Regions from separate parts of the Homo sapiens genome. Here region 2 is linked to region 1. Evidence: fine-mapped expression QTL. A gene starts in region 1. The other region holds a variant in brackets. All regions are shown on one strand. Distances are between the middles of the regions.

Region 1 (5,189 bases):
TCACGCAGGATGGCAACCGCTCCCAGACGGGCACTGATGGAAACAGTGAATCAGAGAAAGGGCTGAAACAGTGCCCTGAAGCCTGGCCAGGCAGGGTCACTGGGAGCACCCTGGTGGGGTGTGCAATTGTATGGTTCATTTGCCCAACACGGCACAATGCACAACAGAGAAAATCAAATCAAACTCCAGACAAGAACACTTTGCTTAAGAAAGCAGATGTGAGAAATGTGCCACTTGTTTGTGAAAGTTTTTCATCAAAACAGCTCTCACAGAGATGGGGGGGTTTGATTTAAATGAGAAATGTGCTTATAAAAAACAGATCTTTGGTGAGTAATGAATAGCTATTATCTTATCTATTTAATTATGTATTTAAACGACATATGAAATTTATTATATTTTCCTAAACAAGTTTGAATTATGTTTTTGATTATCTGAAGTGCAACAAAGTTCATCTGCAATGATTCAGCTGTTTATTCATTCTAATATATGGCCACCTACTACACTGTCTGGCACCTATCGAGAGTTTAACAGATGTTTAATTAATAAGTAAGCATCAGTTGGTGAATAGCAGTGCTATTCCAAGATCTTGAGGAAATATTAGAATCTATAAGATGTGGCTCTTCCTGGACAATCAGGCTGAACTCAGCAATTCTGCCACTTCTCAGAGGCCAAAACCACTCCATGAGAAGGCTCCCTATCAGAGCCAAATCACCTCTGGGCAGAGCCAAGATAAATCCAGTGCAATCTACATGAAGTTGTCTGTTTAGACCACACAGATCTGCACAATCTTCCCTACAGGGCCCTGGTGACATCTGCTGAAATGAATGAAGCAGTCGAATCAAGGGCACCATGCTTCACAGTCACGTTTCTCATCTTTTCGCTGCATGGACTGTTCTGCGGGGACGTGGCGGGTCTCGGGGCTGGGCAGTCTCAGAGGGTCAGGATCTGAGCGCACTATGGATCCGGGGAGAGGGAAGGGTTAAGAATCAGTGAGGAAGGGGCTGGGCAAGGACATTCTACCCACCCCCCACCCCCCGCCAAAAAAAAAAAAAAAAAAACAACTCACAGGAGGCAAATCTTTGGTGTGTATTTGCAAATGCCAAAGAGAAACATAAAAGAATGGTTTTCCTATGGAACACTGAAGAAAAATGTCGATCCTGATCTTTCCTCTGTCTCCTGCTTGCCCCCTGCCCTACGAGGCCAAGCAGCCAAGCAAGTGGTCAACAGGTGGCCTCTCCGAGCAGAACCGTTTCAGATGTTTAAGAGAAATGACATTTTAGGAGTGGAGCAATGAGCTCAACTTTCTGTGACAAACTTCAGGGGTACTTGTTTAAAAGCATGTTATTTGTGCTTCACCCACAAAGGTTCCAATTTGGAAGAGCTGAACTGGGCCCAGGAATGTATATCCTTTGTGTGTCCAGGAGGAGGTGTGGGTGGAGATAAGCAGCTCCTTGACCACACTTCAAGCAACAACTGGGGTGTGATTCTGAGGCATGTCTTCTCCTCCTCCATTGACTTTCTCCTCTCCAAAGGGTTATCACTGGTGTGACCAGCTCCTCCAGAGGTACCTAAGGTGATCTCATAGCAAAGACCCACGCCCTGGACCCATCCTGCTAGTGATGAATCTGAAGGTTCTGAAGGTTCTGTGCATAACCATGTGGAGCCTGAGTGCACAGGGGCCCAGAGCTATCCTGATTTCTAATCTGGAGCTCTTTTGTCTCTACCAAACTGCTTCTTTATTGAAACTTTACATCCTGAGGGGTTCACTGAATAACAGCGACCCCAAGGCACCTAGAAACAAGCAATGTCATGTTTCTGTACTTGGATTAGAAAACAGGAAGGGAAGGCAGGAGAGTGTGTGGTGTATCTTAGAAAAACTTTTTAAACGTGATACAATCTGAGGAAAATTTGCATTGATGCCAGTAGAGGGCTAGATAGCTTTAAAATTGATCATTTAAATGTATTGACGTAGAAACGTATTCACAATATACTTTAAATGGAAAGCTGTGTTAGGGTCAAGTCTTACAATGCGATTCCACGGTTGCACTGCCACACACACACACTTACATATGTGCCCAGAAAAGCATTGGAAGTAAACCACGTCCTCCTGTTAATAGCAATTGTTTCTGGGTGGTGGAGTTTAGGGGAACTGATGCACTTTTTTCTTTGGTTTTGCCCATCTGTACTGTAACTTTCCCCGAACAAATGTGCATCACTTGTGTCATAATTTACTTTTTTTAAATACATGGAAACAACCACAGTCTGTATTTATTCTCTGGTTAAAGTGCTAAGCCTTGTAATCTAGAATATTCATCTGTCCGAGACTGTACCCTGGGACTCATCTCACGATGAGACATTTGGCCTCCTCCCCAACTCAGTTTCAGAATTCATCTGCTGGATTTCTGAGTCCCACTGAGTGATTAATGTCACACGGGTGACAAGGCATGACTCATAGGCACCAAGAAAGCAGCAGCAGTGTGTGCAGGCCGGGAAGTTGCCACAGCCCTCACTCAGGGCTTCATGCACGCCAGGGCAGTCCTGGGTCAATGGTCTCTTTCCCCTCCTCCTGTTGGATAGATGAAGAGGCCTGAGCAGGAAGGTGGTGGTTCCGTGGGGAATCTTCAGTGACTGGAGTATGTTGTAAGGATGGTGAATCGTCACTTGGCCAGCCAGGGTTTGGCAGTCAAGACAGAGAGCAGTGTCTGGGCCCACAGCATGAGAGACTGCTGGACTTCAGTCTTCGGAGCAGGCAAGAACGGGGAGCTTCTGTGGATTTCTATTCCTGTCGCCTGTCACTGTGAACAGTGCCCAGTACTGCTGGTCAGTAAATGTTTGCTAAAATACTGAGCAACCAAGGAAGTGACTTCAGTTGAACTCTGTACCTGTTGTGTTCACTTCCTTTGCAACATGCGTGACTAATGGTTACTCCTTCTCTTGAATGCTTCCAGAAGAGTAGCACTCACCACCTCATGAGGAAAGGCACTGCAACTTTGGTCAATGATATCTGTTAGAAAGATCTTTTCCTATATTTAGAAGAGTGATTCTCATACCTGAGCATGTATGAGAATCAGTGGGTTTGAGGTGGGCCCAAGAATTTCCCTTTCTAACAAGTTCCCAGAAGATGCTGATGTGGCAGCTTCTAGCACAGTGCTTGGAAATCCATGAGTTTTCAAGAGGACAATCTAAAGTGTTCCTTTGTTTTCCTTTACTTCCCCTCATTCTCAAATCCTATGGGGATGACACAGAGAACCACAAACAAAACAACACACACACACACACACACACACACACATACACACACAGAGCACCCTTGTCCCTAGCTTTATCCTCTGGGATACACAGGACAAGCTCCTCCCTGTTCTATGTGCAACTTTTAAAATATGTGCAACTTTTAAAATACGTGGATGTGGCTTTCACATCTTCTTAGTCCCTCTTTAGCAGATTTTTTACAAAACAAATAAGCCAGGAAACCATGGTCTGAAAGGATTCCTGCTCTGGTGAGATCCAAGACCCACAGCGAGGGCGAAGACAGAGGTCTTGCTGCAGCCCCGGCTTCCTCCACATGGAGGTCCCAGGAAGACGGCATAAGCCATTGCCTCGATAATAACCTGCTTGCTAACTTCCAGCCAGTGCTTCCACATTTTCATGACTTCCAAAGGTTCAGATGAGGATGGTAGTTGTGAGTTTGGGATGAAGTCTTCTGAGCGACTCCTATGGCCCAGCCACAGGGACCTGGGGCTGGAGAGAGAGGACCATCCCAGGCTGCAGCAGCCAACACCTGTGTGGAGGTGCAGGCCCGTGGCCCCCAGCTGTGGTGGACACAGCTGTGCTTCCTGATAGCACCCTTCCCTGCACCTACACCGTGACATCCTCCTCCTCAGCCTGAGTGCAGGCACCACCTGAAGGGTATTTGGGGGAGGGCACCAGTGTCCCCAAGGTAGGAGCTAGTGCATATGGCCTCGTCCTTCAGAGGGACAATTCTGAGAGGCAATCTGCGTGCTTTCAAAGGCCCAGAAACACACCCTGTGTTGCCTCCTCCCTGTCTGACTCTTCCTCTTCCTCCTGCTCCCTGGGACCAGCTCCCAAACAAACTCAATTTCTTCTCTCAGTCGAAGTTTGCTAAGTGAGTGAAGAGTCAAATAAATGATGTTGCTTAACTCTCCCTCTGATGTGTGAATGTCCTCTAGGAACAAGCCTTTTGTAGGAGAACTGTAGGCCAGGGCTGAGTGCACCTGGGATGCAGGATCTCCAGGGGGGACCTATCACTTGTGCGAATTTAAACCTGCTCAGAGCTTAGGGCCCGGCTCTGCTCAAGATGGGCAGAAATAAAGAAGACTAAACATTTACATCTCAAGAGTTTATTTACCCTGGCCTGACTCTTCAAAAAATGCCATTGCTGCTACCCTGAGGATTAACCATGGCCATTTTTAGACCAGGTGCCATCCTGCCTTTAGCCTCGGGTCACCCCTCTGACTCACTGCCAGGAAACGGAGCCTAGACCCTGATGTGTGGTGAGAATTGGCCTGGTTTTCACCTGAGATCCACACTTGAGAAAGCTGATTGAACTCACAGCGTGCCATCCTGCCTAAGATCCTCTTCAGAGATTCTATTTCCCAGAGGGAGGGGATCACTTTCCGCAGTGGGGTTTCTATCTGGGACATTTCTCTTCATCTGTAGGAACCCTATTTAAAGGCTAGAAAATCTGAGGGAGAAGTGGAAAGAAGAAAGCTGTGTAGCTGTGACGATGGCCTGGGACATGGATTCCCAAAGCCTGACCCTCCGCTGTGCCCCCTGCTCCCCAGCAGGCATGGTTAGCCTGTCATGGAACCCTGCACCTGAGCCTGGGCGAGCTCCAGATTCCTCAGCACACAGAGCTCCAAGCTCCTCCTGCCAGGCCGCCAGGGCTGGCTCCCGAGAGAATGCACAAGCCTTTTGTGGTGTCTGAGAAAACACAGCTGAATCTACTAGGCAAGGGGTTGTATAGGGCACCTCGGGAAGAAGTCGCACAGGTGCCCCCAGAGATCTCAGGGGCAGGGAGGGGCTCACCCATAAGGGAAGGGGAGGACTCAGAAGGCTTTGAGGAAGAGGCAGCTCCTAAAATGGGTGAGGGCAGAGTGTGCCCTGAGGCCCCACAGCAGGCAAGCAGGTGACTGGAGAAGCAGCTAGGTCTGGTGCCTGTGTGCCAGGCT
Region 2 (5,189 bases), 39 kb after region 1:
CTGAAGCATATTTCTGTCAACTCGTCAAATTCCTTCTCCATCTGGCTTTGTTCTGTTGCTGACGAGGAGCTGTGATCCTTTGGAGGAGAAGAGGCACTCTGATTTTTAGAATTTTCAGCTTTTCTGCTCTAGTGTCTCCCCATCTTTGTGGTTTTATCTACCTTTGGTCTTTGATGTTGGTGACCTACAGATTGGGTTTTGGTGTAGATGTCCTTTTTGTTGATGTTGATGTTATTCTTTTTTGTTCATTAGTTTTCCTTCTAACAGTCAGGTCCCTCAGCTGCAGGTCTGTTGGAGTTTGCTGGAGGTCCACTCCAGACCCTACTTGCCTGGGTATCACCAGCGGAGGCTGCAGAACAGCAAATATTGCAGGTGGTAAATATTGCTGCCTGATCCTTCCTCTGGAAGCTTTGCCCCAGAGGGGCACCCACCTATATGGGGTGTCTGTCAGCCCCTACTGGAAGGTGTCTCCCAGTTAGGCTACATGGGGGTTAGGGACCCTCTTGAGGAGGCAGTCTGTTCATTCTCAGAGCTCAAATGCCATGCTGGGAGAACCACTGCTCTCTTCAGAGCTGTCAGACTGGGACGTTTAAGTCTGCAGAAGTTTCTGCTGCCTTTTGTTCAGCTATGCCCTGCCCACAGAGCTGGAGCCTAGAGGCAGTAGGCCTTCCTGACCTCTGGTGGGCTCTACCCAGTTCAAGCTTCCTGGCCACTTTGTTTACCTGCTCAAGTCTCAGCAATTGTGGATGCCCCTCCCCCAGCCAAGCTGCCACCTCACAGTTCAATCTCAGACTGCTGTGCTAGCAGTGAGCAAGGCTCTGTGGGCATGGGACTTGCCAAGTCAGGCACGGGAGAGAATCTCCTTGTCTGTTGGTTGCTAAGACCTTGGGAAAAGTGCAGTATTTGGGTGGGAGTGTACTGTTTTTCCAGGTACCATCTGTCACAGCTTCCCTTGGCTAGGAAAGGGAAATCACCCAACCCCTTGTGTTTCCCAGGTGAGGCAACACCCGGCCTGCTTCAGCTTGCCCCCCGTGGGCTGCACCCACTGTCCAACCAGTCCCAATGAGATGAACCAGGTACCTCAGTTGGAAATGTGGAAATTACCCATCTTCTCTGTCAATCATGCTGGGAGCGGCAGACTGGAGCTGTTCCTACTCAGCCTTCTTGGAACAGAGCCCCCCTCACAAAGGACTTTCTCTGGCTAACTCTGATGCTTTTCTGAGTTCTTACCTAAATTTCCCCTTCTCCTTCTGTGGCCCTGCCAGTTTTGTTTTGTTTTGTTTTGTTTTGTCCTTATCACTACCCTTGCTGCCTCCTCAAATTATCCAGAGCCACTGTTGTTTTCTAGAACATTGGCAAGCACGTTGATAGAGTGCCCACATTGTACTGAACTCTGAGGGGAATAGTCTCGTCCCCATCACTCAGGTGGGGAAACTGAGGTGAGGTTAGTTTAAAGTGGGTAAGCAGTGGGTTTGGAATTGGAGCTCTGGCTGGCTGGCTCATGTCCGTGCTCTTCCCACCACAGCAGGAGGCCACTGGAGGCTCCAAGGGCTCTGAAATGTTGAGAACTTCCCTGCAGGTACCAGCGAAGAGGGCAAGAACACAGCACTACTTCCTTGGATACTGTTTCCCTCCTCAGAGGGGTTTTCTGAGCTGCCCTGGGTCCTGTGAGGAAGGTAGGAATTACATTTCACTAGGGAACAGCCAGGGTCACCTCCTTGCCTGAGGCCCCACCATCCCATCAGCCTGGATGGGCCTGCTCAGCAGCCACACTCGCCCCTAGGCCGAGAAGGGGTGGGGCTCGGTTCCACAGAGTCTCCCAGGGCCTCAGGCAGGTACTCTAGGCTGATTCCATCTCCAGGTTCGCAAGTAAAAAAAAAGTCAACTGCCCAAAAGACTTCTCTTAGAACTCACAGCAGGTTAGGCTGGCAGGTGGAGTCTATGCTCGGGTGGTCCCATCTGCCAGGCCTGATGTTCCAGGTGAAGAGATTGGTGAGCACCAGGTGACCCCACCCAGGTGCACGTGGCTCTGTCGGGTACAGGCAAGTCTCTGCCCACCAAAGGGACACCACAAGGGCCCAGGCAAAGCAGAGCCTTTCTCACTGGGTGTCTGCTGGTGCTGATGTCACCAAGGAACACACCCCGGGCAGCTTAAACCACAGACGTTTATTCTTGCATAGGGCTGGAGGTCACAAGTCTGAGATCAAGGTGCTGGACAGCCTGGCTCTTCCTGAGGGTGGCTGGCAGGTCCAGTGCAGGCCTCCCACCTTGGCTGGTGGACAGCCATCTGCTCCCTGGCTCTCCATATCACCTTCCCCTTGTGCCTGTCTCTCTCCAGATCTCCCCTTCCTGTAAAGACACCAGTCCTACTGGATCAGGGCCCACCCGTGTGACTTCACTTTTACTTGAGTACCTCTCACAGACCCTAACTCCAAATCAGGTCACTTGCTGAGGTACTGCATGTGAAGACTTTGACATTTGAATTTTGAGGGGGCCACCGTTTAACCTGAACCACCAAGGACAGAGCCAAAGACCCTGGGTGACAGGCCCAGAACAGGACCTGGTGGAGGCTCTTCTTTAGGGGAGAGAGGGAAATGGGAGCCACCACTGGCAGAGCCTGAAGGCAGGGCAGCCAGAAAGAAGCTGTGGGAGTCCCCACCATGGAAGACCCTGCCGAGCATCCTGTGTCTCCTGAAGCAGACCCTGACATGAGGACTGGGGGCACGTGTTTATTAAGGGCGATCCCCGGAAGGAGGAGATAACCAGGTAGGGAAGGAGGGAACCCCAGGGCAGGGCTCTAGAGAGAGAGGATGACCCTCAGGAGCAGGAGGGTGCACCTGAAACCAGACCCAGCAAGAGATGGAAGCCCTGGGAGCAGCCCCACTCCAGGTCCTCTGCAGGAGTGACCCAGCTGCCACCAGGCTGCCCTGCCCAGCTCAGCAGGCCCTACGGGTGCAGGGAAGCAGATGGGCAGTGAGATCTGGGACC[G/A]GTATAGAACCACAGCTGCCACAACTGCCCATGGCTCCCTCCCTTCTTTGACGTCAGAGTGAGCAGGGCGGTTTCTGCTGCCTTCGCATTCCAGCCCCACACACCTCCCTGCAGCCTGGCACTGGAAACTGCTGAGCCATGCAGGGCAGCCTGGTGGCGGCTAGGACACTTCTGCAGAGGACCTGGAGTTGGGCTGCTCCCGGGGCTCCCATCTCTTGCTGGGTCTGTTTTCAGGTGCACCCTCCTCCTCCAGGAGGCAGGGGCAAGACCAGCTTCAGCCCTTCTTGCTCTCCATGGTCTGTATATGGACAGGGTGTGGGCCCGGGGAGACAGTTGTGTGGTGTGTGCATTGTGTGTGTGGGGGGGGTTGTCTGTGTGTCTGTGAATATTTGTGTGATATGTGTGTAGTATGCTCATGTGTCATGACTCTGTGAGGGTGTGATGGAAGAGTGTGTGTAAGAGAGAAGTTTGAGTGTGTGTGGTGTGTGCATCTGGTGTCTGTGGGTGATGTTTGTGTACATAGTGTCTGTGTGTGTGATGTCGGTGTGTTGTGTGGGTTTGTGTGTGTATATAGTGTCTGTGTGTGTGATGTCAGCGTGTTGTGTAAGGATTTATGTGTGTGTGTGGTGTCTGTGTTTGTGATGTTGGTGTGTTGTGTGTGGGTCTATGTTTGTGTGTGATGTTGGTGTGTGTGATATCAGTGTGTTGTGTGTGGGTTTATGTGTGTGTGTGTGATGTCTGTGTCTGATGGTGTGTTTTGTGTGGGATTGTGTGTGTGTGTGTGGTGTCTGTGTGTGTGATGTCAGTGTGTTGTGTGTGGGTTTATGTGTGTGATGTCGGTGTGTGTGATGTCAGTGTGTTGTGTGTGGGTTGATATGTGTATGTGTGATGTTGGTGTGTTGTGTGTGCATTTATGTGTGTGTGGTGTCTGTGTGTGTGATGTCAGTGTGTTGTGTGTGGGTGTATATTTGTGCATCATGTCAGTGTGTGTGATGTCAGTGTGTTGTGTGTGGGTTTATGTGTGTGTCTGATTTTGGTGTGTTGTGTATGGGTTTATGTGTGTGTGGTGACTGTGTGTGATGTTGGTGTGTTGTGTGGGTTTATGTGTGTGGTGTCTGTGTGTATGATGTCAGTGTGTTGTGTAGGTTTATGTGTATGTGATGTTGGTGTGTGTAATGTCAGTGTGTTGTGTGTGGGTTTATATGTGTTTGTGTGATATTGGTGTGTTGTGTGTGGGTTTATGAGTGTGCATGGTGTCTGTGTGATGTTGGTGTGTTGTGTGGGTTTGTGTGTGTGGATGTGGTTTCTGCCTATGGGAGGAGGTTTGCTCACAGATGGAGGAGAAGGAGCTCTATAGGCAAAGATCCCAGGGCCGTGGAGGAGGAGACACAGTCCTGAGAACTCCTTCCTCTGAATCAGAAGGACAGGAAAGGTGGGATTTTAAAGGAACAGAGAACCCTGGTGGGAGAGGTGAATCTGAGCTCCTCGGGCCATCGGGTGTCCTGTGGAGCAGAGGCAGGCCCGTGAGGGTGATTTTCAGAATGCTGCCTGCTTCTGAGAGTGAGATGAAGACCCTCTGGGGTCCCGTTGATGTCACCAATGTCGCCTGTCTTGAGGCATCTCTGGTCCAGACCTGGCTGGGAGAGAGAGCTATGGGTGGAGATGCACTGGGTGGGTGCTGGTGGGAGGGGAGGGCTGGCTTTTCCTCAGCCCCCAGACTTAGAGAAGATCACACGCAAGAGCTTGGAAGTCCTGGGAGGAAGTATGATCCCGAATCCTGGCACACTTGATCATGCGTGACAGGGACTTAAGAAAGCCCCTAATTATAGCCGTGTGGGGTTTGTCTCCCTTCTGAAGCTTGGCGCCCGTGTGCTCAAGGCAAGGGCGTGACCAAGGTAAGAGACCCCTTCTCTCCCTTAGGCAGAAGTCCTAGCAGAGTATGCCCACGCTGGTTAGTGCTGCTGCAAAGATGAGCCGAAGACCATGAGAGACCTCCAGGTGGTCCTTCTGGGGAGAAGAAATGGGTTTTGGCCCCAAATCCTTCTGCTGCATTTTTCCCCTATCCCTGGGAAGCCATGAGACCTCAAACCTGTGTTCCCAAGGAGGCGAGCTGCTGTTCCCAGGTGATGATATGATGTGCTTGGGGAAAGTAAGTGGCTGCCAGACATGGCTGAGAGCTGTTGTCACTGCCGTCAAGTGCA

Evidence for each region.
Region 2: its variant is fine-mapped to the expression of LINC03125 in esophagus muscle (GTEx, PIP 0.91).

Annotation. Positions count from the first base shown.
Region 1 is chr20:23,145,595-23,150,783 of GRCh38, forward strand. LINC03125 (long intergenic non-protein coding RNA 3125) reads left to right here and starts at 2,509. Exons shown (of 6, transcript NR_199692.1): 1 at 2,509-2,820. RefSeq lists enhancers at 1,958-3,157, 4,652-5,189.
Region 2 is chr20:23,184,875-23,190,063 of GRCh38, forward strand. It overlaps LINC03125 (long intergenic non-protein coding RNA 3125), which reads left to right. Exons shown (of 6, transcript NR_199692.1): 5 at 2,441-2,766; 6 at 4,909-5,189. Among named protein-coding and RNA genes, the nearest start is that of LINC03125, 39 kb to the left of the region's middle. The variant G/A (reference allele first, on the strand shown) is at 2,989.